Regions from separate parts of the Homo sapiens genome. Here all the other regions are reported to be linked to region 1. The links are microRNA targets in miRTarBase. Many come from high-throughput screens and were not tested one by one. Region 1 holds a microRNA gene; each other region holds the end of a gene's coding sequence.

What was found. Region 1 holds the annotated microRNA hsa-miR-1233-5p (AGUGGGAGGCCAGGGCACGGCA, at 4,510-4,531, opposite strand). A microRNA usually pairs through its seed, bases 2 to 8, with sites in the 3' UTR of a target mRNA and lowers its output. Matches are read on the target gene's strand: a 7mer-m8 pairs with bases 2 to 8, a 7mer-A1 pairs with bases 2 to 7 and ends in A, and an 8mer does both.
Region 2: the mRNA of PLXNA1 is a reported target of hsa-miR-1233-5p. Seed matches in the 3' UTR shown: 7mer-m8 at 1,750-1,756 and 7mer-A1 at 3,584-3,590.
Region 3: the mRNA of PSMD11 is a reported target of hsa-miR-1233-5p. Seed matches in the 3' UTR shown: 7mer-m8 at 1,779-1,785.
Region 4: miRTarBase lists IP6K1 as a target of hsa-miR-1233-5p. Seed matches in the 3' UTR shown: 7mer-m8 at 5,587-5,593.

What each region holds. Positions count from the first base shown.
Region 1 is chr15:34,377,617-34,384,729 of GRCh38, forward strand. It overlaps MIR1233-1 (microRNA 1233-1), which reads right to left and starts at 4,534; the gene lies at 4,453-4,534. GOLGA8A (golgin A8 family member A) reads right to left here. Exons shown (of 25, transcript NM_181077.5): 17 at 6,345-6,431; 18 at 6,130-6,237; 19 at 5,825-5,912; 20 at 5,181-5,437; 21 at 4,770-4,913; 22 at 4,535-4,635; 23 at 4,352-4,452; 24 at 4,085-4,240; 25 at 1,452-3,997. The coding sequence ends at 3,795.
Region 2 is chr3:127,032,821-127,039,933 of GRCh38, forward strand. It overlaps PLXNA1 (plexin A1), which reads left to right. Exons shown (of 32, transcript NM_032242.4): 31 at 1-16; 32 at 1,102-4,569. The coding sequence ends at 1,197. Among named protein-coding and RNA genes, the nearest start is that of PLXNA1, 53 kb to the left of the region's middle.
Region 3 is chr17:32,479,938-32,487,050 of GRCh38, forward strand. PSMD11 (proteasome 26S subunit, non-ATPase 11) reads left to right here. Exons shown (of 14, transcript NM_002815.4): 12 at 209-260; 13 at 552-694; 14 at 816-3,382. The coding sequence ends at 694. CDK5R1 (cyclin dependent kinase 5 regulatory subunit 1) reads left to right here and starts at 7,056. Exons shown (of 2, transcript NM_003885.3): 1 at 7,056-7,113. RefSeq lists an enhancer at 5,842-6,343 and silencers at 6,416-6,945, 7,056-7,113.
Region 4 is chr3:49,720,813-49,727,925 of GRCh38, forward strand. It overlaps IP6K1 (inositol hexakisphosphate kinase 1), which reads right to left. Exons shown (of 6, transcript NM_153273.4): 6 at 3,482-6,843. The coding sequence ends at 6,310. RNF123 (ring finger protein 123) reads left to right here. Exons shown (of 39, transcript NM_022064.5): 37 at 1-82; 38 at 208-293; 39 at 373-717. The coding sequence ends at 493. GMPPB (GDP-mannose pyrophosphorylase B) reads right to left here and starts at 3,139. Exons shown (of 9, transcript NM_021971.4): 1 at 2,786-3,139; 2 at 2,580-2,660; 3 at 2,442-2,490; 4 at 2,160-2,302; 5 at 1,784-1,942; 6 at 1,620-1,698; 7 at 1,419-1,546; 8 at 1,153-1,335; 9 at 1-1,071. The coding sequence starts at 2,914. The coding sequence ends at 940. RefSeq lists silencers at 231-408, 3,183-3,632 and an enhancer at 2,443-2,542.

The DNA.
Region 1 (7,113 bases):
ATTCTTGCTTGGGTGAGATCCAAAAGCCCTCTCTTGGGGTCTGGATCAGGATCCCTTTCTGGTAATGTCTTCTGGTTGAACCACGAAGGGACAATATTGAGGAAACCTCTGACCCAAAGAAAACAGCAATACCAATTGGCCGACTTTGAGTAAGAGGAGGGGTACATTTAACGTGGGTAAAGGATGGAATTGGGTTAGAGGCCCAACTTAGGAGGGTTAGAGTCCCTACTAAGACAGAGTTAAAGGCCTCCTTAATAAAAGGCAAGGACACTTGACCAAACTTGGGTTAGAGGCCCAACTTAGGAAGGTTAGAGCCCTTCCTAAGATTCAGGGGGTTACAGGTTAGAGGTCCCTCTCAGTAAAGTCCCTCTTGGTTAAAAATGGATTTGGAATTATGGGATGTTATCTGCTATTCTCTTTGGATTAATCTGCCTTGCACTGTTTGCTGATGGCTGTGGGTGACAGGATTAGGCATGTACAGGATCACCAGATGTGGGAGCATTTTTCTCCCTAAAGTGGGAAAGATGAGAGCTGATGGGACTGTTGGAAGAGCTCCCTTCATTACTGAAAAGCAGGTGCCTGAACTTTTGATTCAGCGTCGCTGCAATGGGTGGGTCTTTCTCTGGCCTCCCGGAGCTATGTACCCTGCCACAGACAATGCTTTTCTCCCCTTTTCTCCTTTCTCTTTTCTATCTTTTCTGTTACTCAGAGCCAACTGTCTGCTGTTTCATCTTGCCCAGAGACCACATGTTGAAACTCCTGGTTGGAAGATCATTGTACCCCACTTTTCTTTTTAGCATATAATCAAGAAGTAACTAAGTATAATCAGTTGAGCAGCTGATGCCGCTGCTTTGTCTTTGGAGTAGCCATTCTTTACTCCTTTACTTTTTTTTTTCTTTTTTGAGACGGAGTTTTTGCTTTTGTCACCCAGGCTGGAGTGCAGTGGCACTCTTGACTCATTGCAACCTCCACCTCCCAGGTTCAAGCAATTCTCCTGCCTCGGCCTCCTGAGTAGCTGGAATTACAGGCACCCACCACCACACCCAGCTAATTTTTGTATTTTTAGTAGAGACGGAGTTTCACTCTGTTGGCCAGGCTGGTCTCGAACTCCTGACCTCAGGTGATCTGCCCACCTCGGCCTCCCAAAGTGCTGGGATTACAGGCTTGAGCCACCGTGCTCCATGATAACTTTTCAGAAAACTTTTTTCTACTTTTTGCCACAACTTTTTTACATTTTTATCCGATAACTTTTTCACCCCAAAACTTTTTTAATCCCATACCTTTTTTATGTTGTGTTCTTTCAATAAACACTTGCATAGTTATACTACATTTTTGTAACAATGAAACAGATTATCTCATGCCAAGCATGCCCAGTATTTGCACAATATCAATACTTTTAATACTATAGTTTTCAAGACACGCAAAATAAAATTTTAAGGCAAAAACAGCACTTTGCAACAATTTAAAAATTTATTGCATTACAGTAGCATCACATCAGCAGTCAATAATGCCACTTTAAGCAAAAGTCTTTCAGTATTTCCGTTACACATTCTGTTAACAAGAACTCATACATTGGTAAAATTCATTCTAAGAAAACTTGGCAAATAACGCTTTGGCCTGGAATTGGCATTTCTTTCTCTACTTTTCCTTCCCACCATTTCTTCCTTTTAAACTACAGGATTTATATTTTAAAATGTTTTATTTCAGAACATTAAGATAGCAGTTACATTTTTTAATATTTATATTATTTTAAAATGACTCTTTAAGATACAGTTTTAAACCCATGGGCTAGAAATCATACGACTGTTAATTAGCCGCATTATTTGGTCTAACATTTTTTATCATTCTGAAACTGGATTTGTGTAATACATTGATAAATTCATACAATTTGGAAGAGTCAGTTGAAGTTACAAGGACCCAATATCTGCCCTCTTTCAGTGAATGCCGGCAAATCTGTTATTCCATTGGCAAAATCGTATTGCTGCTCTCCTGTTAATCTCACATTTATAAAAGGATCATGAGGCTGCCAAGTGCTAAAAATGGAGATGGTCTAGTAACTAGAAAACTCCCCACCCCAGGGAGCACACCTACATATCTCCCTACAACCTAATAATGTGATGTGTTTTGGAACACAGACATTAGAACTTCATGAAGTTTTAACTGTTGATTCTTTCCCAAGCATCATCAAGTTATGATTTAGGCAATGTATGATTGAAATGCATTCATTCATCATGCATAGGCACAATCACAGAAATATTGCACAAAGTATGTCCCTGACTGAAAATGAGAGGTACAAAAACGTATTTCACTCTTCGTAAAGAAGTTTGTGAGGAAATACAACTCTGCGATCGTATAGACATGTTTCCTGATAATACAGACATTCACAAACAGTAGATTGCACCACAGTGTGTAAACATTTTAAGTTGCATAAACTTCTCCTTGATTTTCAAAGATAATATAATACTGTCTACTAAAATTCCTTTTTGTTTCAACTAAGTACTCTCACATATATTAGTTTATAATAATGTTTGTTATTACTTTCTAAAGTGTTTTCCACTCAAGGAAAAGAAGTAAATTCCTATGTCAGAGTAACCGAGGTGGTTGAAGAATAGGTATTAGCCAGAGAGGTCTAGATAGTAAAATCAAACTTCAAGCCTCAAAGAAGCTCCATGAACAGAGAGGAATGCCAGGTGTCACACAGCTTTCCTTCACTCTAATTCATTCTTGACTAGAGCCTGTATGCCTGTTTCAGAGACATTTAAACTCTTAAAGGATTTCTTATGATCTTCACTAAATACATTAAGAAGAATGCCAACCAGCGCCCTTTCGTGTACTGGGACAGGTAGTCATGTGATTAAAACAGGGAACACGAACTCTGACTTTAAAATGTATTGTAGATACAAATGCTCTAAGCTAGGAAAGGTTTTTCACACCCACAGCCAATGATGGCAGCCTTTCATTCCTCGGAAATAAGCCCTTTTTAGGTCACTGAAAAAGAGTGCAACTGCTGCAGCTCACGATGCAATATCTTCATGAGCCCAGAGCACATACAAATCCAAAGGGAACTGCCACAGTACACTGCTCATTCTTGGCACCGGAACAGATGAAACACACTGTATCCTGCACATACCTGCCAGAGCAGGCCACTTTCCTCTTCTGTGAGATTTAGAAAGCTCCCCCAAAAGGTTATCACTCCCATCACCAATACACAGAAAATGGAGGAAAGGCTGTTTCCAGTTCTCGGCCTTTAAACAGCTCTAAATGTCAGTACTCACAGTGGCATATTACAAAGTAATAAACAGTGCACACTTGAGGGCAAACCGCATATTGAGCTATAGAAGAGCTCACTGTGATTAAGATGAGATCAAACATCATAGCAGAACATTAGCAAATTTTATCTGAATTCTGTAATGGACATCCATGCTGCAATAACATTAGAAAAGCACGGGAGCCTATTCCAAACCAGCGAGAACAGTTTTGTGCAAAGAGTGGGTCTTTGTGTGTTTGAACTCCCACCACGTAAGGGCAAACTCGATATGCATGCTAATGACCTACAATTATGAAATGAAAAAAGAAAAATGCTGAAGGATGCCAGAGTGAACATCAGTGAGAGCCACAGAGACCCACTCTCTTTTAACTTTTTACAAATAAACTTAAACTATAAATTAGAAACACAAATAATCATGAGTAGCTCTAACATTCAAATGAAGTAAATGAATTGTGTAGGAGATTAACCCCATAACTTTGTTTCGTTTTTAAAAATTTCTTGAGCAGCTCTTTGATGATGGTGGTGTTTATCTCCTTCTTCTCGGCAGCCAAGCCCAGCAAAAGCATGGCACACAGCAGTTGCTGCCCAAGCCTGGGTGCTCCTGGTGGTCCTGCATCTCACCAAGGAGCTGCACGACTGGCTGTGCAGTAGGGTTGTCCTGGGAAGAACCCTCCCTGGCTTCTCCTTGTGCAGGCTCCACGCTGTTGGTGAGGCTCGCCTCACAAAGATCTTTGGAGAGAGGGAGGCGGGGATCTGAGTGGAGTGCTAGCCGCCCCCCGCTCCTGCCTGCTCACCCCGCCTGGGGGCTCTACTCACCACCATGCTTGTCGGCAGCCCCGAGCTCCTGGGGGGCTGGGGCTCCTGGACTGGGTTCAGCAGCAGGGTTCCGGGCAGCGGCCAGGAATTTGCCGTGCCCCTCGCTGTAGCTGCCACAAGCCGCAACACCATCTCCTGCAGCTCCAGCAGCTTCACCTGAAGGGACGGGTGCTCAGCTGTCAGGCCGCTGCTGGCGCCCACCCTCATGCCCACCCCACCCACACCCCCACCCCACCCCCACCCCCACAGGGATGTTGCACACCCTACCTTCCTCTCCTCCTTGTCCTGGGCCAGCCTGATGATGGCCTCCTCCCGGTGACGCATCTTTGGCACTGTCCCCTGGCTCTGTTAGAAGGCGATGTACTTTCCTGCGGGAGGACAGGGCTCAGACGCTGGGGCCCCTCCCATAGCCCTGCAGCTCCCCCTGCCGTGCCCTGGCCTCCCACTCACTGATGGCATCTCTCTCTCCGGTACTGGATGAATCCAAGTTCCAGTTTCTCCACATGCTCCCTCAGGTCCGCCTTCTCCTCCAGGAGGTCCATAAGGCCGCTCTGGAGCCAAAATAATGGGGTCACATCTCAGCAGCGACCTGCCCCAGCCCTGCCCTTCTTGGCCCATGCTAGGACTCACTCCCCTCCAGCTTCTCCATGACTTCCTGCAGGGCCCGGAGGGTCTCCCCACTCACAGACTCGCCCCCAGTCCCTGAGGCTGGGACTGCTGCCTCTGGCTCCTTCTCGGCCGAGGTGAGCGTCTCCATCACCTGGCCCAGCTTCTCCTGCAGCTCCTTTACTTGCTGCTCCAACTGCAGTGCGCTCTTGTTCTCGTGCTTCTGGACAGAGAGAAGCAATCAGCAGCCACCCACTGCAGCTGGAGACCCCAGAACTTGGTGTCTGCCTCCCATGGCACCGGGAAGGGTGGAGCCAAGTTAGAAAAATACTCTCCTCTCTCCCACAGCCACCAGAGCAAAGCTCTGGCTCACAGGTGCCTTTGGAAGTAATATTTCATGTGAGGGCTACACTGCCCCATTTTACAGGTGGGGAAACAAAGGCCTGGAGGGCTAGGGAGGAGGGCAGGCTCCCCAGGTGGGGCAACCCACCAGCTCCTCCAAGTCGCTCTGTGGCTCGGCCAGCTGCTGAAGCCTCTTCTCCCGTTCCCGAAGCCTCTCCTGCTGCTCCTGAAGCCTCTCCTCCTGCTCGCGAAGCCTCTCCTTTTGCCCACGGTTCAGGAGACTGATGCACTGATTGTTTTCCACCTGAGCCTGGAGCTCTCCTGCCACTCTCTCCAGCTCCTTCCTCAGGTCTTGCAGCTCCACCTCAGAGGACACTGCTGGGGCATCCGGGGGCAGTGGCTCAGCTGAGAAAGGAAGCAGATCATAAGGGCCTCTGGATTCTCAAAACAAAAATCAAAACAGAAAAAACAACAAAACACCCTCCTGTTGGCGCACAGCTCCTCTCAGGCTCCCAAACTTGGCTTCACTGCTAACGATCCCTCGCACCCGGATGGTAGCCAGTCTTCCAAACCACTTTCAGATAGAGAGCACTGCGGGTGGCTGACAACGGGCCCTCTTTGCTCATGGGGACACTGAGGCTCAGGGAGATGACAAGACTTGTCTCCTGGCACAGACCTCTTTCCCTCTGCCTCAAAGCCCTGCCATCCACCCACCTCCCTGGGGCACTCTAAGCCACCCCCACAGCCCTCTGATGCCAGTCCTGCTCCCAGGTCATGCCAGCCCCATCTTACCCATCTGGTTTTTGAGTCTGGACAAGCTCCTCTCCAGCTCCTCTACCCGATGCGTATCATGCTTCTTCTCCTCCTTCAATGTGCAAACCTGCCCAAAGCACAGGGGGAAAGGGCCCTGGAGAGAGGGGCTGGTGGCTGGACAGGCTCCCATCTCCCTCTCTGCCCCCACCTCCACAAAGCCCAGACCCAGGACCACCTCTGGCTGCACTATTCCCATTTTAAAGAGGCCCAGAAAGATCCAGTGACCTATCTTAAGTTGTTGGTGGGGGGGGGGTGGGGCGGGAGGCTGAAGGGTCAGATCTCACCTCCTGCGACATTTTCCTCATCCTCTGCTGCCACTGGGCCCTCTCTCCTTTTATTTGTTCAGCATATTGATCTCTCTCCAGCTGGACTTCTTTAAGCGACTCCTTCAACTGCAAGAATGGCCACACAAGTTAGGAAGGGCCGTCACTGGTCCTCACCTGCTCCTGGCCACCTGGGGTCATCTTCCTTCCACATCCCTCCCTCTGCAAAACCTCACCTGTGTCACGTGTCCTTTCAGCAGTATCTGCTCCCGTATGGACTGCTCTAACTGCCGCTTGAGAAGTGCTTTACTGCGGCTCGAGAACTGGATGGTGAAGAGTGAGAAGTTTCGATCTGGGGAGCCTGGGCCATTCCACACAGTGCCCCTTAAAAGGGCTAGGGCTAGGCTCAATATACAACTCGGTCAGTAAAGATCAAGGCATTTCCAAGCCCGTGGTCTGGTTTTGAAAAAAACTCAGTGAAGTTGGAAGGGACAAGGAGAGAGATCAGATAATATTGCTATTGTTATTACTCCCACTGTTTGAACCTTTGTGGAGTGCTTCAGCAGGTACCTTGCTAGCAATCCCATTTAATCCTCGCAACCACCAGAGGAGACAGTTACTATGATGCCCTCTCTTGGGTAGATGAAAAAACATGGAGTGTTTGAGGTTAAGTGCTTGCCTAAGATCACTTAGGCAGAGCTAGGATTTGAACACCCAGGTCTATCAGATTCTCTAAGCCCATTTTTCTGCTGGGGGTGGGGGCACGGTTAGGAAGGGGAAAATTAATCTTTTGTTCACTTTTTGAAAAGATGATACATTCACATAGTCCAAAACTCGGAAGGTATCAAAGGGAAGTATCTCCCAGCCACCCTGCTGCTCTCTCCTGAGTTGTTTACGAACACTTGCAGACATGTTTTATGTATATTATCATACTATGTACACACACACACACACACACACACGTTTCCTCTCTCTACAGAAATGGGAACATACTAAAGGTACCCT
Region 2 (7,113 bases), not on the chromosome of region 1:
CAAGTACAAGGATGAGGTGAACACCGTGGGAGCCCACAGGCTGGGCTAGGAGGGCTTGCCGGCCCCTGCCAGAGTCACCTGCTCTGCCCCGCCCTGCCACTCCTCCCTGAATCTCTGGGCTGCCACTGACCACCTTCACTCCTCTGCACCCTCTGGCCACCTGGTTCCTTGGGGCCAGGAGGGAGCCTGCCAGGCCGAGCAGAGAAGGCCGTGGTGGAGTCACTGTGTGCAGCCATGTGGGGTCAGGGGTGGGGAAGATGGGATGGCAGCTTCTTCCTGAGGCAGAGGGTGTGTGGGTGGTGAGCAACTTCCCTGAGGGGCTCATTTCAGGGTTTTCTAGTCTGGGCCAGCATCTCCAGGGCTGGGCATAGGCTCTTGGCAGAGCTTTCCTTTCAGTATCTTTTCTGCTGACTTGGAGTGAGGCCACGTACATGGACCTGGGGACGGGGTCCAGGAGGTATCCAGGAAGGAGAACTGGCTCCTGGGCCGCACAGGATGGGAGCACGGGGCCAGAGGGCAGGACAGTCTCGGCCTGTGCCAAGGCTCTGAGGGCTAAGAAGGCCACGGGAGTGAACCAGAGCCACCCTGGGGAGGCCAGGGCAGGTGCAGCAGAGGCAAGGAACCTTCCCCAGGGTGCCACAGGAGGCAGACAGGAGGCAGAGGGCTGTCCTCAGGCAGGTGCCCCAGGGGAGCAGAGGAGCAGCCAGAGACTGCATGTATTAGGGTGGGGAGTGGGGACAAAAGCCTGGGGTCCTGGGGCTCACCAGGGAAAGGGGAGCTGAGGCTCTCTGGGGAGCTCTGCTTTAAAGGGGCACAGAAACCCCAGGGTGTGAGGACTGGGTGGGGACATGTCAGCAGCATGGCCAGGCAGCCAAGGGATCAGAGCCTGCTGTTTTAGGGGGTGAGAGTAGGATGATGACAGGGGCAGGGCTCATTCTCCATATTGGGGTCCTGGAGGGTCCAGGCTCACAACCAAGGTCCTTTGGCCAGGGGTAGATGGGGTTGAACCTCTGGCACCTACTCTGGAGGCATCTGCCCTGGGCCTGCTGAGTGCATGGAGGCTGGTGGCCCGGCATGCTGACAGTTCTCCTGGCCCTGCAGATCCTGGCAGCCCTGGAGAAGGATGAGCAGGCGCGGCGGCAGCGGCTGCGGAGCAAGCTGGAGCAGGTGGTGGACACGATGGCCCTGAGCAGCTGAGCCCCAGCTGTGATCATCCAGCATGATGCAGCGTGAGGACAGCTGAGCAGGGACCGGGACAGCCCTCACCGCATGCGTGTGGAGTGTCCGGTGGTGCTCGGGCCGCCGCAGTGCAGCGACTGCCCGGCCCTCCCTCCCCTGCCTCACCCGGTCGGGTCCCGGCTCTTCCTGTGTGGAGGTGATGGTACCTGCCACACCACAGCTGCGCACACAGCTGCTTGCTCAGGGGCCGGGACAGCACTGGGTGCTCAGGCTGGCCAAGGACCTTCATTGCCTGGCAAGAGCTGCCCAGTGGCCTTCATGGGAGAAGGGCTGACCTCTGAGGGGCTGAGGGGTGAGGCCAGGGCCCTCCAGGGGGAGGGGTAGCCAGCTTGGGCTGTCCCCTTGAGACCAGGACAAGAGGCTGGGGGTGTCAGCATTCCCAGCTTTCCAAGCTGCCCCCAGGCGGCAGAGTCTGAGGGTCCCGGGGCCCGGTTGGCAGCTGGAGAAAGAGGCAAAAAGCCCGTAGCCGGGCAAGAGGAGCTCAAGTCGGTCTGGGCCCGTTGCCACCGACTCCCACCTCCAGCACCCATGCCCGCTGCACCGCTGCCATCCTCAGATTCACCGCGTGCTCTGCGCGGCCGAGGCCGGAGCACCACATCCACCTCGCCCCAGAGAGGCTCTGCTCCCTCCTATGGAGGGGCTGTGGGCCAGGCTGCTCAGACTCCTGGGTGGCTTCCAGACGGACCGGGCAGCCCCTCTCCGTCCTCAGGGCTGTGCCTCTGGGAGCCACTGGGCCAGGGGCCCCGGGTCGCAGAGAGCACGTTCCCGTTATTTATTCCCCTCCGCGTCCTACACAGGCTGCCCTGGCAGCTGTCTTCAAGGGTAGGCTGAGCTCCCCACCCTGGAGCCCCTGAGGGCGGCCCCTGAGCACTCCTCTCTCTCCACTCTCTCTGTCCCTGCCCCAGCGGCTTCCAGTGTGGCATCTCAGCAGTGTCCTGGCCCCTCCAGAGCAGTGGGACATCTGGGGACTGTTTTTGTGTTTAGGGGAAAAAATTCTGCTGCACTCTGCTTGGGCCTTGAGGTCTGTGGCAGGGCTCCTCTGGCCCGCAGTGGCCTGGATCTATCTGGGCCATGAGTGACGGGCAGTGACCAGAGGGACTGGAGGCCAGCGGTGTCCACCCTTGCCCTCAGCAAGAGAGAATGCATTCTTAAAAGAAAGCTGTACATGTATATATATGCATATATATATATGTGGCTCTAGCCTCAGGCTCCAGCCCCAGTGGGGTACTGTACAGTTAACTGAAGAAGAATTTTAAAGACGATTTGAACAAGAAAATGAAGGCAGTGGGAAAGCAATGCCAAATGGTTGTGGAGAAAGTGGCCGGAGCCTCCCTGGAGTGGAGCAGCCCTGAAGCCTGTGCCCCCCGACCTGCGGGCCGCTGTTTTGGTTTGACATGACAAGGAAAGGACTTCCTGCTGACCCTGAGAGCCTCTGGGGTGCCGCGGCACCACGGGGCATGCATGATTGTGCTAGCGTTTAGTCTGAGTTGATCTTTTTAAAACTGCAAGTGTTGAATACTAGAGGTTGTTAGACCCTTTTTTATGTTTTTTAATTAATCAGTCACTTGTAAAAGCAAACAAGCGGTCCATCCCCTTTTCAAGGTCACTTTTTTGATGGTACCGAAGATCCCATGGACATTAAGGGACAGCTAACTGTGGCCAGACTCAGCCCCATGTCCTTGGCCAGGCCCAAGGAGAGGACTCGGCCCCATGGGGTGTGCCAGTCTTGCAGTCCGCCCCAGCTGAGTAGCGTGAGCCAGATGACGCCACAGAGACCCGCCTCTTCCCTGAACGCGGGTCGGTGTGGAGTCAGTGACTGCTGACTCAGGGAGCTCCTTGGCCCCGTGGGCACTGTGCCAGGGCTGGGGCCTTCTGCTGCTGCCACACCCAGCTCAGGCCTGGGCCAGCCCCTGCCCCCAGCCCACTGAGGGGGTGGGCTTACTCCCTGGGCAGTCTTGGGGGCCAGAGCTGAGGCCAGTCCATATTACAGTGGCTGGGCTGTTTTTTTCAGTAGCCCCTAGCATTGGCTGGGATTCCTGTTCCTGGGTGCGCCTCCACCTCCCTTCTGATGTTTCCTGGCTATGGTGGGGTGGGAACCTCAGTTTCCCCCAAAGTCTTCCCTGGATGCTGGCTTCAGGTTGAAGTCCCTGGTTCTTCCAGTTCCTCACGGGTTAGGTAGGGGCTCCTGCATCACCTTCAGAATCCAGTTCCAACCCCCACTCTCCTTAGGCCTTGTGCTCTGCTCTGCCCTGCCAGGCTGCCCTTGTCCATGTGAGTAGCATGGGCGGGTGGTGGGGACGGCAGTGGTGATGAAGGGGGTGCACCACAGGCCTCATGAAGCAGTTCCCACATGGGCGTGTGGCTGGGGCGTGGCCACCACAGAGCACATGGCTGTGTCTAGGCGCAAGCACTTTAGCAGTATCTGTTTACATGCGCAAGGATCAAGCCGACTACCTGTGCTGTCTACTGGGACAGCAGTCTCCGAGCTACTCCGTACCTCCCTCTGCCAGGTCGTGGAGTTAGGCCCCAGTCCCTACTTGTCACTGGTTCCCACTGTGCTCCTAACTGTGCAGCACCTGGGAGCTCTGGCCTGGGGCTGGAGGCCCTGGTAGGAGCTGCAGTTGGAGGCCGTTCTGTGCCCAGCAGCGGTGAGCGGCTCCCATGGGCCCTGTGTCTGCAGGGAGCCAGGGCTGCGGCACATGTGCTGTGAAACTGGCACCCACCTGGCGTGCTGCTGCCGCCACTTGCTTCCTGCAGCACCTCCTACCCTGCTCCGTGTCCTCCCTCTCCCCGCGCCTGGCTCAGGAGTGCTGGAAAAGCTCACGCCTCGGCCTGGGAGCCTGGCCTCTTGATATACCTCGAGCTTCCCCTGTGCTCCCCAGCCCCAGGACCACTGGCCCCTTGGCCTGAGGGGCTGGGGGCCCCACGACCTGCAGCGTCGAGTCCGGGAGAGAGCCCGGAGCGGCGTGCCATCTCGGCTCGGCCTTGCTGAGAGCCTCCGCCCTGGCTTTCTCCCTGTCTGGATTCAGTGGCTCACGTTGGTGCTACACAGCTAGAATAGATATATTTAGAGAGAGAGATATTTTTAAGACAAAGCCCACAATTAGCTGTCCTTTAACACCGCAGAACCCCCTCCCAGAAGAAGAGCGATCCCTCGGACGGTCCGGGCGGGCACCCTCAGCCGGGCTCTTTGCAGAAGCAGCACCGCTGACTGTGGGCCCGGCCCTCAGATGTGTACATATACGGCTATTTCCTATTTTACTGTTCTTCAGATTTAGTACTTGTAAATAAACACACACATTAAGGAGAGATTAAACATTTTTGCTAAAAGCTCTTGGCTCCAGGTTTTCCTTGCTGGGAAGCAGGGGCGGCCGCAGGAGTGCAGCCACATCCCAAACACGGAAGCATATCTCCCTGGGAGACTCAGCCACACCCAGGACAGATGGCCACACTCTGTGAGTTGGGTGCGCTCAGCCCAGGTGACACATTGGAGCCCTTGGCGGAGACTAAAACACCAGTGCCTGACCCCCACTGGAGCCTTGGAGCTTCAGGGGTCTGAGCGGTGGTCACTTTTAGATGCTTCCCAGGCGATTCTCCCGTGACCCCTAGCTCAGAGCAGTGGCTTCCAGCCCATGCCGTGAGGCAGGAATTCCTGGGTGCCTTGTTAACTAAAATCAGATTCTGACCCCGAGGGGCCCATGAGCGACAGCCTGGGGGAGCTGAGGCTGCAGTCCTGGGCCCCCTGCCTTCAGTAGCCAAGGCTGGAATTGTGTTTCCCAGACTCGCAGCCAAGGAACCGGGTTTGAGAAATGTTGGTCTTTCCAGCAGAGACAGGCTATGCTGCTTCATCTCATGAAAATGTGTACAGATACTAATGATGGAGGTGTGGATGCAGCTTCTGCCAGTGCATGGCTTTGGTCAGTGGCCCCGTCCCTGGGCTCATTTCATCCATGGCTCAACAGGGGTGGCTGCTCCTGCCGCAGAGGGTGGGTGCAGGGTCAGGTGTGACACATCCCCAAGGGCCCTGGGCACCTGCTCTGCAGCTGCGCCTCCAGGCAGACCCCAACCTGGACCGTCTGAGCACTGCCTGTAAGTGAACTCACTGGGACTTCCCGGCAACCCTGGGAGGTTAGGGGCAGCTGCACCTGCAGCTGAGGAATTGAGGCACACAGAGGTTGCACAATGTGTCCCAGCCACATGGTGGTAAGCAGCAGCCCGCCCAAACGTAGGCCCTTGGGACCCCAGGCCCTCCCCACCGCCCCCAAGCTCCCACCTGTCTCCCACCAGCCTCTCCATGAACTCGTTCCCAGGGCTGACAGTGGCCCATAAGTCATCAACAATACCTCCCACTCTCAAACAGGCGCATCTTGACAGTGGGGCTGCAAGCACAAGCTCTGTGCCAGGCTCAGTAACTCAAGAGAAATCAGTGTAATCACCACGAAATTGTGTCGGAAACAAATTTAGCAAATGTGGTCCCGTTTAGGGTGTGACGCAGCCTGTTCTCATGGCTCAGTCCCCTTCAGCTTTTTTCCGGCACAATCAGCCCATCCTCAATTACCCTCATTAGGCCTCCAAGGGCTCCAGCCCATCAGCCTGGAAGCTGAGCCATCTCTGAGCCGCAATCAGCGCTCGCTGTGCGAGTGATCGGGCGCAATTACACAGCAGCGGTGATGGGGCCTTCTGATTGCTGCTTGAGTGCGCTGGCTCCTGAGGGTATTAAACCATCAGCTATTAATGCTGGTGGCTCTGAGCAGGGCACCTGGATGGGCTTGCTGCAGAGCAAGGGCGAGGCCAGCCTGTGGGCCTGGGTGGGATGGAGGCACCCTCCACCCAGAGCAGATCCAGAGGTGACTTCAGACTTCCCACCTGGACCCCAGAGCAGCCACAGCTCAAGAGCAAACACAGGCTCTGAGCAGAAATAAAAAGTAACAGGCCAGGCTAAAACCTGATACAGTGACTATAGATGGTGTCTTGCCCTGAAGAAAACTGGTGGCATGGGAGGGTGCCCACCTGGCCAAGTGGGCAGGGAAGGCCTGAGGAGGGATGGAGGAATCGAGGCTTGAGAAACAAGGAGCCAGCTGAGGTGACATCGGAGAGAGCATTCCCTGTGTCCAGAGCAATGGAAGAGGCCAGGTCAGCTCTGTGCAGGGAGGTGCAGGAGGTGCTGTGCCTTGGGGAGCGAGGAGGGTGGGCTCTGATTCGCGCGTCTGGCAGTCGCGGGACAAGGCCAGAGGAGGCTGGAGACCAAGAGGCTCCTGCAGGTATCCCCAGGGCCCGTGGCCCGTGGCACCCCTTTGGGGCCTTCCTGGAGAGCCATCAGCCCTGATGGTGGAGCTTTGGGGGCAGATGTGTTCTTTCTGAGGACAACAGTCATGGAGTTGTCGGTGGAAGTGACTTGGGTCATATCCAGGCTGAGCCTCTAGTCCTGGAGCAGAGCCTCCAGCCAGCCTGCACTGGGCACATAGGCAGGTGCACCATAGACCTTTGGGGAATGGGACACGGATGCTGGGGAGTGGTTTCTGCAGCATACAAGGCTGCCGGGCTGCAAGTCAGTACCAGGACCAGCCCCATTGTAGAGGGGAGAACCTGGGAGCAGAGAGGTAAAGTCACTACCCTCAAGGACACACCGTTACCCATGGTGGGACCAGGATTCAAACTCAGACTCTCTACTTCATGCTGCAGCACTCCTCTAGTGGTCTCCATGCTGGAGACTCCTTGAGGACAACACCAGGGCCTGATACCCAGAGTCTGGACACAGAGCAGAGGGGCGTGAGCAGCTGGCAGTGAGCAATGCCCTGGGGCCTCGGGAACTTTGAGGAAAGCATGTTCTCAGGAGCATTTCCCCTGTAGCCGCCTTGTAGATGCCGTCAGCCC
Region 3 (7,113 bases), not on the chromosome of region 1:
AGGGGTGGCACATGCACCTGATTGGCCTCATTGGAAAGCTCCCCAGCTTCTCAGTGGGGAATGGGCAGTGTGGACTAGAGTAGGAGTTGCATTGTTGCTATTTTGTTTTCAGTCCATTTGGCCTAAGACCCCTCCAACAAAGCTACTGTGTCAGGGTGATCTCTGACTAGTGGATACTGGTCCCTTTAATCATGTGCTTTGATTTTAGGCCGACGTGGAAAGGAAATTATCACAGATGATTCTTGACAAGAAATTTCATGGTAAGTAACAGTCACACAGGCAAGGGGGCTGGTGGTGGTGATGAGATGGTTGAAGAAGTTTATTTTCAAAGAAGATGTTCTATTTGTTTCCCCCGATGGTTCACCCTGGGGTCCTGGCCCCTCTTCCCTGTGATGAGAATGTGTAATAAGCATGTGTACATGGAATAGGGAGATGAATTCTATTTCCCTTCTTTTCTGGACACAGTGAGTCAACTAGGGAGTGGGCTGCTTCACAAACACTTTTGTGTCTAACCTCATCTTTTACCTGGGTTGCCCTTGTGTTTCTTGCAGGGATTTTGGACCAGGGGGAGGGTGTCCTGATTATTTTCGATGAACCCCCAGTAGATAAAACTTACGAAGCTGCTCTGGAAACAATTCAGAACATGAGCAAAGTAGTGGATTCCCTCTACAACAAAGCCAAGAAACTGACATAGGTGAGTGCTGGCTTCAGGACCCCAGGGCTGGGCAGCTCTGTCTTCTGCGTGTCGAGACTGAAAACCTCCTCCTGGTGTCCTCATGGCTTCCTGATTGACACTGCTCTGTCTTCTCTTGCAGAGTTGGATCTGTAGCGGTCCTTTGGAGAGTGTGTGTGGCGGGAGAGTGAAACCTTGGGGGAAAATGCTAGGAGATTCTTTTTTCTTTTTGTTCTACTTTTCGCTCGGAAAGTTTTTAAATCCTCATTTGGTGCATCTGTATTCCAGCCAATAGGTGTGCCAGTTTTCATGTAATCTTTACTGGCCCAACTTGGGAGTGGGGAAATTGCTTAAAAAAAAAGAAAAAGAAAAAAAAAAAGATTATTCTAAATAAAAGGAAAAAGGCTTACACTACCTAAAGCTGTGCTCTCTGCCTCCTGGGAGAGGGCCGCAAAGCCAGGCACCCCGCCAACCACTGGGGGTCCTAATCCACCTGCTGGGCATCACCTCTCCTCCTCCTCAGAATTGGGTGTTTGCTGACCATCAAAAGCAATGACTTTTTATTCTGTTTGTACTGAACCAAAACAAACAACTGTGTATAGACTGCTGTTTTCTTTTTTATTTGAAATGAGGCATTTTGGTGTTCTTTCCCCTACCATACGGCCTGTCTGCCCTTCCCTCCCCACATTGGCTCCAGCAGAGTAGCCGAAGGTCCTGCCGCCGCCGCCACCACCACCACCACTGCAGCAACAACAGCAGCAGCAGCAGCAGCGCCTGCATAGCTCCACTCTGACCTGTGAAGGAATGGGGATGAGGCCAGGAGCTAGTGTCTACCACGGCCACACAGGGAGCAGTGTGGGCCCTTAGCCCCCAAGGGGCCTGCTATGCATGTGGCTTTTTTTTTTTTTTTAAACACAGTAAACTAGATTAGTCGTCAGTGTTTTAATTGCCCCTCTTCTCCTCTCCTGCATTCCTCTCCTCTCTTCTTTCCTCTCTGTCCCTTCTCTTTCCCCTCTCAACCAGGAGACCATCATGTCTCTCTGCCTTCCTCCTCTCCCCTCCAGGGGAGTCAGGCTGTCTGTGAAAGCCATGAGCTTCTCTCCCTCTCCCACTCCTCCTCTCCTACTTTCAGATGGATTTATTCCTTTTTTAAACAATGAACATCGGAAATGAGACTGTGGGGTGTGGTTTCTCTCTCTCTTTTTTTTTTAATTTTCTTTGTTGGGTTTTTGAGCAACCTCATGTCCCCTTCCCAGGGAGCTTTTTAATTTACCTCTTAGAACTCAAGTGGATGGGAAGTAGAGCACTATGTGTCAGTATGCTTTGTTTTCTGACACGATTACACAGCGAGGCTTTAATGCCATTTGGGTAGGTGAGCTTCTGCACTTCTGTTGTGCTGAACTGTATTTTCTTCTCTCATCTCCTCTTTGTCTTTTTCTCTTTTCCTCTCCTTCCTGCCTTCTTCTGCTGGCCTCCTTTTCTCTTTCTTTACCTTCCTTGGATTATCCTTCCAGGTTTTCATAATAAATTTATATTTTGTAAAAGGATTTTGTTGTACCAGGTTTTGCATCCTCACTGAATCTGACTGGCTTTTATTTTCCTCTCCAAAATCAGGTTTTTGTTCTCAACATCTTTCCCCATCATGTCTAGTCACTGTTTTGGTTTTGGCACCATCAGTATCAAATGTACAAACGGTTCTTGCTAACCAACACCAGGTATATCTGATGTTCAGATGAGTTCCAATAAAAATAATTTTTTTTTTTTTCAAAAGGTGTCTTTTTCTTGAGTGCTGGAGGGCTTCCAAGCAAGTCCAGACAGCTCTGTGTGGCCCCACACTAGTCTAGCTCTCATCTGGCCAAAGCTGTTATCTCATTTGTGTAATGGGAGTCCTTAAGGTAAATTTGGGGTCCAAACTTGGAGGGCTTTGGGGGCAAGAAAGTTGGTGTGTGAGTTCTGAGGTTGGAAATGAGTTCAGGTGTCTTCTTCCAGGGCAGCATGGTCCAGTGAGCACATGTAAGTTTGGGCAGTAGATCCTCTGAGCCTACTTTCTCTTCTACTCAGTGAGGATGCTGCTTCCTTGGCAGGTGATTGTGATGTGAAGCTTAGTAAGTCATAGACGTGCAGGTGTCTGGAGAGTCCTGACATGCAGTTGTGGTTTCGTTTCCTTTTGGAATCTTCAAAGGCAGCGATTTTCATATTGCCTCACACCCTGGCGGGGGCGGGGGGCTCTGGGACCACTGGGGGACCTGCTAAATCCTCTTCAGTCTGAGCAGTTCAGCCATTGTCAGTTTTAGTATTGTGTCTCTGTATTTCACTTGCAGAAAGAGCTTTGCTTCTATAAAGGACTTTAAAAAGTACTCCAAAGAGATCTAGTTTTGGAGTAGAGGGGAGATGTTTTCTCAAACTTAGGGCAGTCCTGAGATGCTCAGGCAGTAGCCCTTTTCTCAGTTCCCTTTGCGGGTCTTGGTCAGATGATGCCCTCTAGACCCGTGCTGTCCAATATGTAGCCGCTAGCCATGTGCAGCTGTCAGGCCCTTGCAACGTGGCTGGTTCGAGCTGTGATACACTGCAAGTGTAAACACAAACCAGACTTCGAAGGCTTAGTATGATAACAAAAGAAAAGGAGTGTAAAATATGTCAATAACTTTTTTATATATGTGTTGAAATATTTTGGGTATTGGGTTAAATAAAATATATTATTAAAATTCACCTGTTTCCCTTTTACTTGTGTAATGTGGCTGCTAGAAAATATAAAGTTACCTATGTGGCTTCTATCTGGACAGCGCAGCTCTAGACCTCCAGGACCAGCAGTTGTGTCACTGCCTCCTCTCCCAGGCCTCTCATGACCTGAGTCCAGGCACAGCTGGGAAGGTCAGCTGGCCGGTGGGCTGGCCTGGGCCCGGCTCCCTCACCTCCCTTCTGGGCTCCAGCCTTCATGGTGCCAGGACTTTCTTGTGTGTTAATGAGACTCTACTGGAGTTGGGAGCAGAGGCTCTGGTCCCCTGCTGTGTGCTAGTTATGTAATCTGTGCTGCTCAGAAGGGCCACTAGATGCTGCTCTGTGATCCCTGAAAGAACAAAGCCGACTTCCTCAGGAGTAAGGGCTCAGGCCTGCTCTATTTGGAACCCTTCTTGGAAGCTGTAGCTGGCCCCCGCCTTGACCTCCCTCCCTCGGGATGCTATGGGAAGTGGGGCATGCAGGAAGAGTGGACTCTCCGGCAGTCCACGGGCAGCCCAGCCCAGCAGGGAAGCTAACAAGCAGGCTGGCCCTTCAGGCAGCTAGAGATAGGCAATAGGCTAAGTAGGCTGATTGATGGGGGTGGGATTTGGAAATCTTCCCTGCAGTTCTATGATGAAGGCAGCTAGGAAGAAAACAGCTCTGCCTCATTCAACTGGGTCTGCCTTCTGGGTCCTTGGTTCTGCCATTTCTGGCAGTTGACTGTCCTTTCTTCCTTGCTTCCAGTTGGAGCAGTGATAGGAACTGGGGGTGGGGAGGTGGTGGTGGGTTGAATGAAAAGAGGAGCTCTGTGGTGTCTGAAAACCAGCATAACAGGCATGGCCTGGGTGATAGGAGCTCCTGGAGACCCCTCCCTTAGTCGCAGCAGCAAGTGGGCTGCCAGTGCCATCCCATTCCTGCTGTGCTGCAACTGTGACTTTGCCTTGGGCAAGTGTGAGGAGGCTGGTGTTCTGCCGAGAGCTCTGTTTGAAGGTGCTAGGGAAAGGCTGGCTGGACAAAGGTGAGAAGACACAGGGTATGGCCTGGCTTGAAAAGGCCCATGCAGAGGCATGCTGCTGCAGAGTGGGAAGCAGGGTAGTGGGGTGAGCTTGGTCCGCCTCCCCGTGAATTGGAATAGCTAGAATTGAGATTGAGAGTTAAAGGTAACAGAGTGGGCCCAGGTTTTTCTAGGGGGTGGATTTTTCTTTTTTTAGCCGAAGTGTCACTCTGTCACCCAGGCTGGAATGCAGTGGCACAATCTCAGCTCACTGCAACCTCTGCCTCCCGGGTTCAAGCTATTCTCCTGCCTCAGCCTCCCGAGTAGCTGGGATTATAGGCACCCGCCACCACGCCCAGCTAATTTTTTTAGTAGAGACGGGTTTCACCATGTTGGCCAGGCTGGTCTCAAACTCCTGACCTCAGGTGATCCGCCCGCCTTGGCCTCTGAAACTGCTGGACACAGTGTGGCCATCACGCCTGGCCGGGGTGGATTATAGGCTTCAAAATTTGGACATATTTTGGGAAGTGGAAAACATTTAACCTTGGCTCAACACTAGAATCTGAAGGGGGGCACAGAGCCAACTCAGGAGCTAGAGGCTCCAAGTAAGGGCTGAGGAAAAGAGGCTGGGGTTCGGCTTTCCTTTGAGAAGGAAAAGGGACACTTGGTCAGGGTCTCGAAGCAAATCGTTTCTTCTGGCTTTTTTTTTTTTTTTTTTTTTTTTTTTGAGATGGAGTTTCGCTCTTGTTGCCCAGGCTGGAGTGCAATGGTGCAATCTCGGCCCACTGCAACCTCTGTCTCCCAGGTTCAAGCGATTCTCCTGCCTCAGCCTCCTGAGTAGCTGAGATTACAGGTGCCTGCCACCACGCCTGGCTAATTTTTTTTGTATTTTTAGTAGAGACGGGGTTTCACCATGTTGGCTAGGCTGGTCTCGAACTCCTGACCTCAGGTGATCCACCCGCCTCGGCCTCCCAAAATACTGGGATTACAAGCATGAGCCACTGCGTCGGCCTCTTCTGGCTTCTTACTGTTACATGCAGGAGGGTTGAGGACAGCTCCATTTGAAGAGCAGGTAGGCTTGTACACTGAGGAACATTCACAGGGAGGGGCGCACTGAGCTGGGGGCCTGCCTTCCTCTTCTGAGTTCCCATAACAGCTGTTGTGGATGTTCTGAAAGGCTGTGGACAAAGTAGCCCTCTGGGTACAGAGCAATGCATTTTCCACTGTATGCCTTGCCCCCCAAGGTTCCTAAAGCCTGGAATTCCTATTGACAGAAATCTGAGTGGCACATAAACAAAACCCAGCACTTTCTGCCTTGATTGCACCATTTTGAATGATGCCAGATTCCCTTTCTGTTCCCCCTAGGACAGTTGACAGGGCTGGTGAAAGCCTAGTCGGCTGGAGTGGTCAGGTAACTGGGTGGCATCCTCTCCTCTGGAGAGCCACTCCCTCATCTCTAGGTCCAGAGATAATCTGGATTAAGACAGGGCTTAAGTTTCCTGTTTCCCAGGTTTGTGGTCAGTTTTGACTCGATCTCCAGAAACAAGGTAAAATAGTAAATGAACAACAGCCTTTGTGAAGGATCTGGATTCACATCTGACAGGAACAGCTTTCAGAAACAGAATTTTACTCAATTTCGCTAGCATCAAGTTCTCAAATTATACATACTTAGAATTGAAAACGTTTAAGAGGGTCAGAAAGCTGGCCGGAGGGGCAGTTGCTTCAGCTTTAATATGACAAATAAGAGGGCGAGTGGGAACTTAGAGGTCATATTTGTGACGGGCTCAGGCTTGGCTACGGGCCACGCTTCTCTGGCTTGGATCTCTGAGGCCCACTTCGGCCGCGGTCATCTACCCATGATGAGGGAACGGAGGCCCCGGAGGGGTGGCCAGAACCGATTGGACTGTCCACTCGAGGTGCGCGTGGCACTCGGGAGGCCTCAGTAAAGGCGTCGCCTCTCCCCGCCCAGGGCCTTCTTCCCCGCGCTCCCTGGCTGCTTTCCACAGGGACGGGGATGTCAGGTGGAAGGAGGGAGCTCCGGACCCTGGCCTCGGCGGAGGGCTCCTCACCAGGCCAGGGCGGCAGCCTCAGAGAGGGCGGGCCGCGCGCTGCCAGGGCAGGGACTCGGCCGAGAGTGCCCCCGCGGCCGGCAGCTGCGGGCGCCGCGGCGGGAACAAAGGCAGCACGTGTCTGGGCGGGACGCGGGCGGGGTCGGCCCTCGGCTCCGCCCTGCTCGGCGCCCGCCCCGCGTCGGCAGAGTTGGGTTGCGCGGGCGCCGAGGACTCTCCGGCGGCCGGGCTGCTGTTGGGCGGCGGCGCGGAGCGGGCGGCGAGCTGTGCGGGAGGGGCGGCCCCGAGGGGCGGGGCGGGCCGACGCCGCGTGTCCCGCCGCAGCCGCGGAGTCCGGCTCCTAGATGGGGCCCGGCGCGTAGAGGTGCCTCCCGCTCGTTGCCGCGTCCTACCCGCACCGTGCGCGGCTCGAGCTGAGGACACCAACGGCCGCGACTCCCCGGCGAGACCAGGCCGGAGCGTGGACGGCGCGCGCGCCCCGCGAGGGAGGGCGCTGAGGCGCGCGCCGGAAGCGGGAGCGGGAGCGGGAGCGCGGCGGCGGCGGCGAAGGTGCGGGCGGCCGAGCGGGGGGCGGGGCTGCGGTGCCTGCAGAACCTTGGACAGAAGCTCCCTAGCTGCCGCCGCCGCCGCCGCCGCCGTCGCCGCCGCCGAGCGCGAGC
Region 4 (7,113 bases), not on the chromosome of region 1:
CAGTGCCGATGAGCTGGCCCAAGTGGAACAGATGCTGGCGCACCTGACCTCTGCATCTGCCCAGGCAGCAGCTGCCTCCCTGGTGAGTGGGAACACGGTGCACAGGTCCATGCCACTTGAATATGTGTGCACTCCTACACAGGCACAACGGACATCCACATAGCCAGGCATCCAACTCCAGCCCACCCTTCACTCTCCTCCCTGCAGCCCACCAGTGAGGAGGACCTCTGCCCCATCTGCTATGCCCACCCCATCTCTGCTGTGTTCCAGCCCTGTGGCCACAAGTCCTGCAAGTAAGTGGGCCCCACAGCTTGGTGGTGGGGAGAGCAGTAGGTACATGCAGGGCAGTCCTCATCCCCTCCCCTGTTGTAGAGCCTGTATCAACCAGCACCTGATGAACAACAAGGACTGCTTCTTCTGCAAAACCACCATCGTGTCTGTAGAGGACTGGGAGAAGGGAGCCAATACGAGTACTACCTCCTCAGCTGCCTAGCCCTCACAGCCTGTGCCATCCTGGAACCTCCACCTTTGAACCCAGAGCCAGGCTGGGCCCTATTTATGAGCTCCCTTTGCCCTTCTCCTGTATCCCACACCACCACATCCAACCTCCTTGCCTGCCTGTATCCTCATTGGTGGGAGCCCAGCCATGGCCCTAATTGTGCCTGAGCTTGACTTTCAGTCAGGGCCACAGTGAGCATTAAATTATTATTCCATACAGCCCTGGCCCTGGCCCTTCTTGAGGGAGTGGGGTTTGTGGGGTGTGCCCAGCAGGGATCCTGCCAGATGATGTCCACATGAGAAGGCAGGTGTCCAACAGCTTCAGCTTCACCCAGTGCCCCCCAGACAAATAATGACAAGTCCAGGGTCTTCTGATGTGTCAGGCCAGCACTCCCCTTGCTGATGGGAAAACCGGGGCTCGGCCAGCCCCACTGCATCCCCTCACATGATGATACGAGGCTCTGGCACTGACTCGCCAATAGACTTGTGGGGCAGCACGCTGGCTCCGTTGAGGTAGAGCTCATCATTAACTATGACGTCCTCACCCAGCACTGTCACGTTCTCCATGCGTACCTCCAGGAGAGGATAGGCCTTGTCAGGGAGGCAGGCACACTCCCCGCCCCTCTCCCCACCCAGCCCAGCCCACAGGCTTACCCACTGACCCACGCGGCAGCGCCAGCCCACAATGCAGGACTCAAGCCAGGAATGGGAACGGATCCGGGCATCCCGCAGCACCGTGCACCGCCGGATACACACACCATCTTCGACCACCACGCCAGGTCCCAGGCTCACATTGGGGCCAATGCTGCAGTTCTGGCCGATGCGGGCACTTGGGTCCTGAGAGCGGTGGGAAAAATACAAGTGGGCCACTTGTCTCCCAAGACTGAGGGGGTTAATGATGGGCTGGGCAAGGGCCTCACCACCAGCACGTTGCCCACAATGCCAGGGCCTGAGCACAGCCGCTCAGGCTGCTTCTGCCTCAGTGACTGCAGGAAGAGGCACATGCCAGTGAGGAAGTCCTTGGGCTGCCCAATGTCCATCCAGAAGCCTGTAGGGAGGGATGCATCAGGGGCCTCAGCCCAGCCACAGACCACCCCCACCCTGTGGCCTCCCTGCCTCACCCTGTAACTCCATGGCATATAGCTGCCCCTCCTTGGCCATAATGGGGAAGACCTCCTTCTCAATGGACGTAGGCTGCAGCTGTGGGAGTGGGCAGCTTGTGAGCAGGGTCATGGCGGTGATGGCCTGCCCCACCCCAGCCCACCAACAGCTGTCTCCTACACACCTGGATGCGCTGCAGCACTGCAGGGCTCAGGATGTACATGCCTGCGTTGATCTTATTGGACACAAACACCTGTGGCTTCTCCACGAACCGGTGAATGCGGCCTGTGTCAGCCTCACACACCACCACACCGTACTTGGAGGGTTCCTCCACCTTGGTCACCTGAATGCAAGGAAGGGGACCTCGGACCTAGTCCAGTGTTCCTAAGCCTTGATACACATGCCGTTCCAGATCTCAAGAGACTCTGCCCCAAGTGCTTAAAGATACATACTGCACAGCTCTGTATCCATAACATCCGAAGGCAGATGAAGGCTAGGGGGCATGGGAGGCTGGGCATGGAGGGTGAAAGTGTCAAGAGAGAGAAGACCTGGCGCCTTACCAGGATGGAGCCCTCCTGGCCATGGTGCCGGTGGAACTGCACCATGGCTTGGAAGGGGAAATCGCAGATCACGTCACTGTTGAGGACGAAGAAAGGGTCTGCAGTCTCAGAGAGTAGGTCACGGGCCAGCGCCAGGGGCCCAGCTGGGGGAAGGGGACAGGTCACCACCTTGCTGGAGGTCTGAGTCCCTGGATTCAGGCTCAGCAGGCCCACTCCAGGCTGGGTCTTACCCTTTTCCTGGCCTTAAACCCTCCCCCAAGGGACCTTTCTGCCTCTACTGACCTGTCCCCAAAGGCTCCTCTTCATGGGACATGGAGATTCGGATTCCCAGCTGGAAGGAAGAGGCCCCCCCAGTCAGGTTCTACCAGGATGGGAAGTTGGGCGGGGACCGAGAATAAGGGCCAAGAGTCTGTGCCTCACCCTCTGCTCCTGTGCCTTCATTTCCTTCTCCAGCACCTGCGACATGTAGCTCACGGCCAGGATCACGTGGTCCACGCCTGCCTGTCAGAACGCAGGCCGACGGGCGGGCTCAGTCAGAAGGTACGGGAGCCCCTGACCCCTAGTCGCTGGCCATCCCTAGTCCCGCCAGATCCGAACGCGACTCTGATCCCGACCCAGGGTCTTACCGCGGCTAGCGCCTCCACTTGGTGCAGCAAGATGGGCTTATTGCAGAAGTCCACCAGTGGCTTCGGGGTGCTCAGCGTCAGCGGCCGTAGCCGCGTCCCATAGCCCCCCACTAAGATCAGTGCCTTCATCGCGCCTGCGGACGTTGAGGGGGTGTCCCGGGCTCTGAGGTGCCTGCAGCCCGCCTGGCCGGTCCCTGCCGCGCACTCCCAACGCCGTGCCCGGCCCCGCGCCCTTCACCAACCCGCCTGACAGACTCTGGCTCCACCTCGTCCGCCCGGTCGCCCTGACGCCGGATCCAGGGCCGCCACAACACAGAACGCGACACCGGGTAGACGGCTGCTGGCCCCGAACTCAGGCCGGACCCGGCGCGGGCAGTGACGCGACCACCGCGGGCCAATCGGCTGCCGCGTACGTGGCACGGCCGCCGGCGTCGGAACGTTGGAGCGCAGCGCTGCGACAGACGTAGCCAATGAGCGCCCGAGTACGCCGGGCTGCCATGGAGACCCGGGCCGGGACCCGCGGGTCAGCTGGCCATTGGCGGATCCAAAGGCGGAACTGGCGCCAAGGGCGAGGCCTTGTTCCCTGCTTCGCCGCGGTCCAGCAGCCGCCGGCCCCGCCCCACGGCCCCGGCCTCGCCCCGAGGGTGACCAGGGAAGGCTCCCGGGCCACGGGATTTTCACAAAGACAGACTCGCCTCCGTTTCTAGCGGCTTTATTTTTGACATACACGACCTCAGACACAAGCGGGGCGGGCAGCGCTAGGTGTACAGAAAGGAGCGGGCTCGGACCGAGCACCCCCTCCCCCGCACGCAAGGTCCAAAGCAAACGCAACTGCGGCGGGAGCCACCGGCGCAGGCCTCGGGCGGTGGAGACAGGCTTAGCTTCCAGGAAAGAGCAGCAGAGAGCGATTCCCAGAACGCGAGGGCTTACAGTTCCCCGAGAAGCAAAAGAACCAGGTCCTTCCCAGGGTTCTCCATTATTTTTTCCTCATTAAAATATATTTTAAGTCAGCACAAACATAACCAAATTGTACAGCTTTAAAGTTCAAAGCAGTCTGCATCTAGGGAACGTGCATGTGGTCAGGAGTGAGCGCGTGAGCAGCGGCTACGTAACTAGCACAGGTGCCAGGCCCCTTGATGGGAATCCCCATGCTCACTGCACAGGCCCAGAGAGGGAGGGGTGGGGTCCCTGGCAAGTTGCTACACTGGTCCCCTTCCTCTTTTAAGCACCACCCGTCCCACCCCACCCTCAGGGGCTGGTGTCAGCTTGGCCCAGGGAAGCACTATAGAGAGGGCTCACCTGAGCACCCCAACCCATGATCCCATGTTGCACTTTGTTCCCAAGTTGGGGCTAAGAAGGCTGGGCCTGGCAGGGACAGGGCTCTCTGGCATGGGGCAGGGAGAAAGCAGTGGCAGACAGTATGCACACACACTTGCCCACTACCATTAAATAACAGGGCTGGGTCTCCAGGTGTCCAAAGTGCTGAAAAGAGGGGCCCTGCTCTAAGGGAGCAGCAGCAAATCCCAGGCCTTCCCACTCTTTGTAGTGCCAGGAAAATACTGAATGTAAGTGGGTGCAGCTTTGCTCGCTGTGAGGAGCAGCAGAATGCGGCAGCCTCTCCTCCCAGAATCGAGGAATCTGGGAGGCACAGGACATCCCCAAAAGGTCCCAAACAGTTCCAGACCCTATGTCTTACCCTCCACCCTACCAGGGAATGACTATCTACACTAATGAAGGGCTACTGCCCCCATGGCTGAAGCCACAGAATGGTACAGGAGAGAAGACTGTAATTTGTGACCAGAAACAGGCAAGCTGTCCCTCCCAGCCCCAAAGAATGGGAACCTGCCCACCAGTGGCACCAGGGCTGGGGGCTAGGAGAGATGGCATCCATCAAGGAGCCCTTAAGAGGCTGCATCTTTAAGGACCAGGAAATGAGTCCATCAGTTACCAAGGCTTCTCACAGCTGGCAGGCTTACCTTTAAAGCCAAACAGGCACTTGCCTAAAGTGACAATGAACAGTGTGGCCCTAGGCTCAAAGGAGAGGGTGCTAACCTTGGCAATGGCTGAAATCGGTGTCACCTCCTGGCCATCTGTTAGAAGCAGCAGATCTGTGCCATTAAGGGCTGGCAGCCAAAATGACTAAAACCATGAGAAAGGAAGGGTCACTCCTCAAGCCCTCACTGCCCCACTCTAAGGGTTGAGGGCCATATTCTAGGCCCACAGAAATGGTGCTGGGTCAACAGGGAAACACCAATTTATTCTGCTATCAGGTCTTTATAAAAAGGCAACACCTGTGGAGGAAGGGCATGGGGCAAAAGCTCACCTCAGAAGTGGAAGTGTTCTGCTGAGGAAAGCATGAAGGAATGAGTATATACTAATGAACAAGGCTACACCCCAGGGGAAGGATCCCAAGGGACGGGCTGGCAGCCGGACACATGGACAAACTGATGGACCCAGGACTGATCAGACAAAGCTCTCATTAGCAGAATGTGGGCACCTGCACCCAGGGCCCATACCACGTCCCTGTGAGCAAAAAAGCTTAAAGTTCTCCCTCCAGGCCCAGGGCCAAGAGCGCCTCACAAAGGGCTGCTGCCTTGAACTTGGCCTGGGGAAATGAGACCCTGAGCGGACCACAGCCCTTGAGCCCTGGGAGGAGCAGCCCATCCAGCAGCAGCACAGCTGCCGAAACTTGAGGAAGAAGACTCCCACCCATAGCACAAGAACTGCAAATACTGTCTGGGCCAGAGCCACCAGAGGCCCTGAGGCCTGCTAGGACACCGACTATCCCCCACTTCAGTGGGGTGGGAGGGAGTGGCCTTCTTAGGCAAGGGAACTTGGTGAGAGAGGCTGTTTCAGGAATAGGACAGGTGCCAACCTGTCACGTGCCAACAGGTGCCTGGGGAACCCAGGCGCCGCCCTCTGCCATAAGTTGGCCTCAGCCCAGCTTCATTAATCTAGCCCCATGCTAAGGTCAGACCGAAGGATGGGTCCAGCTTTGTGCAGTCAGCCCTGTGGTGCCCTGAGGGCACCTATTAAAGAGCTAGCTGACACCCACAGCATAAGACTGGAAAGCCCCCAAGAAATGGGCACCCAGAGCCCTCTACTTCTGGGGAACAAGGGAAGAGTGGGCGTGGAGGGGCCCTGCACCAGCCCAGGGCTTTACCTTACAATCAGCAGGGCCCTGCAGCCACAGATCTCAAAGATCTAGACAAGAGAAACCAATGTCCAAGGGCACCCTGTCCCTGCTGCCAAGCCCACCAGGGGCACCTCTTCCTTCCTAAGGCAGCCTGGACACACCAGTCAGAGCCACAAAGCTGAGGAGCCTGGCTGAGAGGGCGTGTGGTCTGCCCTCCTTCACTTTATATATATGGATTCCAGGCTACAGCTAAAAACATTTCTTTTAGTTTACACCAAAGAGAAATATAACCCTTTAAAAGCAAGTCTGTGTGTCCTCACGGCAAGTTCAGAACAATGGTCCCTGCCTGCAGTGGAGAGGAAGGGGTTCTGGGGGCCCAGAACAGGGCCTACTGGTTCTCGTCCCGCATCTGTTCCATGATGCTGATGAGGTTCTCCAGGCCAAACACGTAGCCTCTGTCTGGCCCATCATGCACGGTGGGGTCATCCCGGAAGCCCTTGAATGTGCTGTGTGCAAAGTCAATCATGCGGACATCCACCTTGGGCTGAGAGGAGGGACCCGCCTCGGGGCTGGTGTTGCTGGGGCTGGTGCTGGGGCCACAGGATGACGCCACCTCAGGGAGCACCATGTCCAGGTGCTTGAGACGCATCTCAGACCGGCGGTCCAGGCAGGACTCAGCCCGGCACTCCTTGCCATCATAGATGACAAGCAGGGAACTGGAGTAGAAGCGGTAAGAGGCCTGCCGCTCCAGCACAGCTTTCAGGCCCCGCAGTTTGCTCAGGATAGGCTCAAACAGGTCACGTCGCAGGTCCAGGCCATTGTGCAGATATTGATAGAGGGCATTGCGGAAGCCTTCAATGGAGAGCCCACGGCCATAGTACTTGTTCCTGCAGAGGTAATGCCCTGTGTCCAGCTGGTACACCTGAAACCCCAGGAGGCAGACAGGGTGAGTGCCAGGGAAGTCTGAAGAGCTCACAGTGCCCTGGGCAAACACTGTCTGGAAGGGACTTTGACCAACCTGAGCTTTTCTGCTCACCTATCTAAGTGGAACCAGGCAGGCCACATTCACCCTGGGTTTTCCCATTGCAGAACCAAGAGAAAGCAATACCAGGCCTATGGGTTCCCTGCCCCCAGCTTTGGAGCCCTCCTCCAACATCGGAACATCTTGTTGACAGGCAAGAGTCTTATTTGT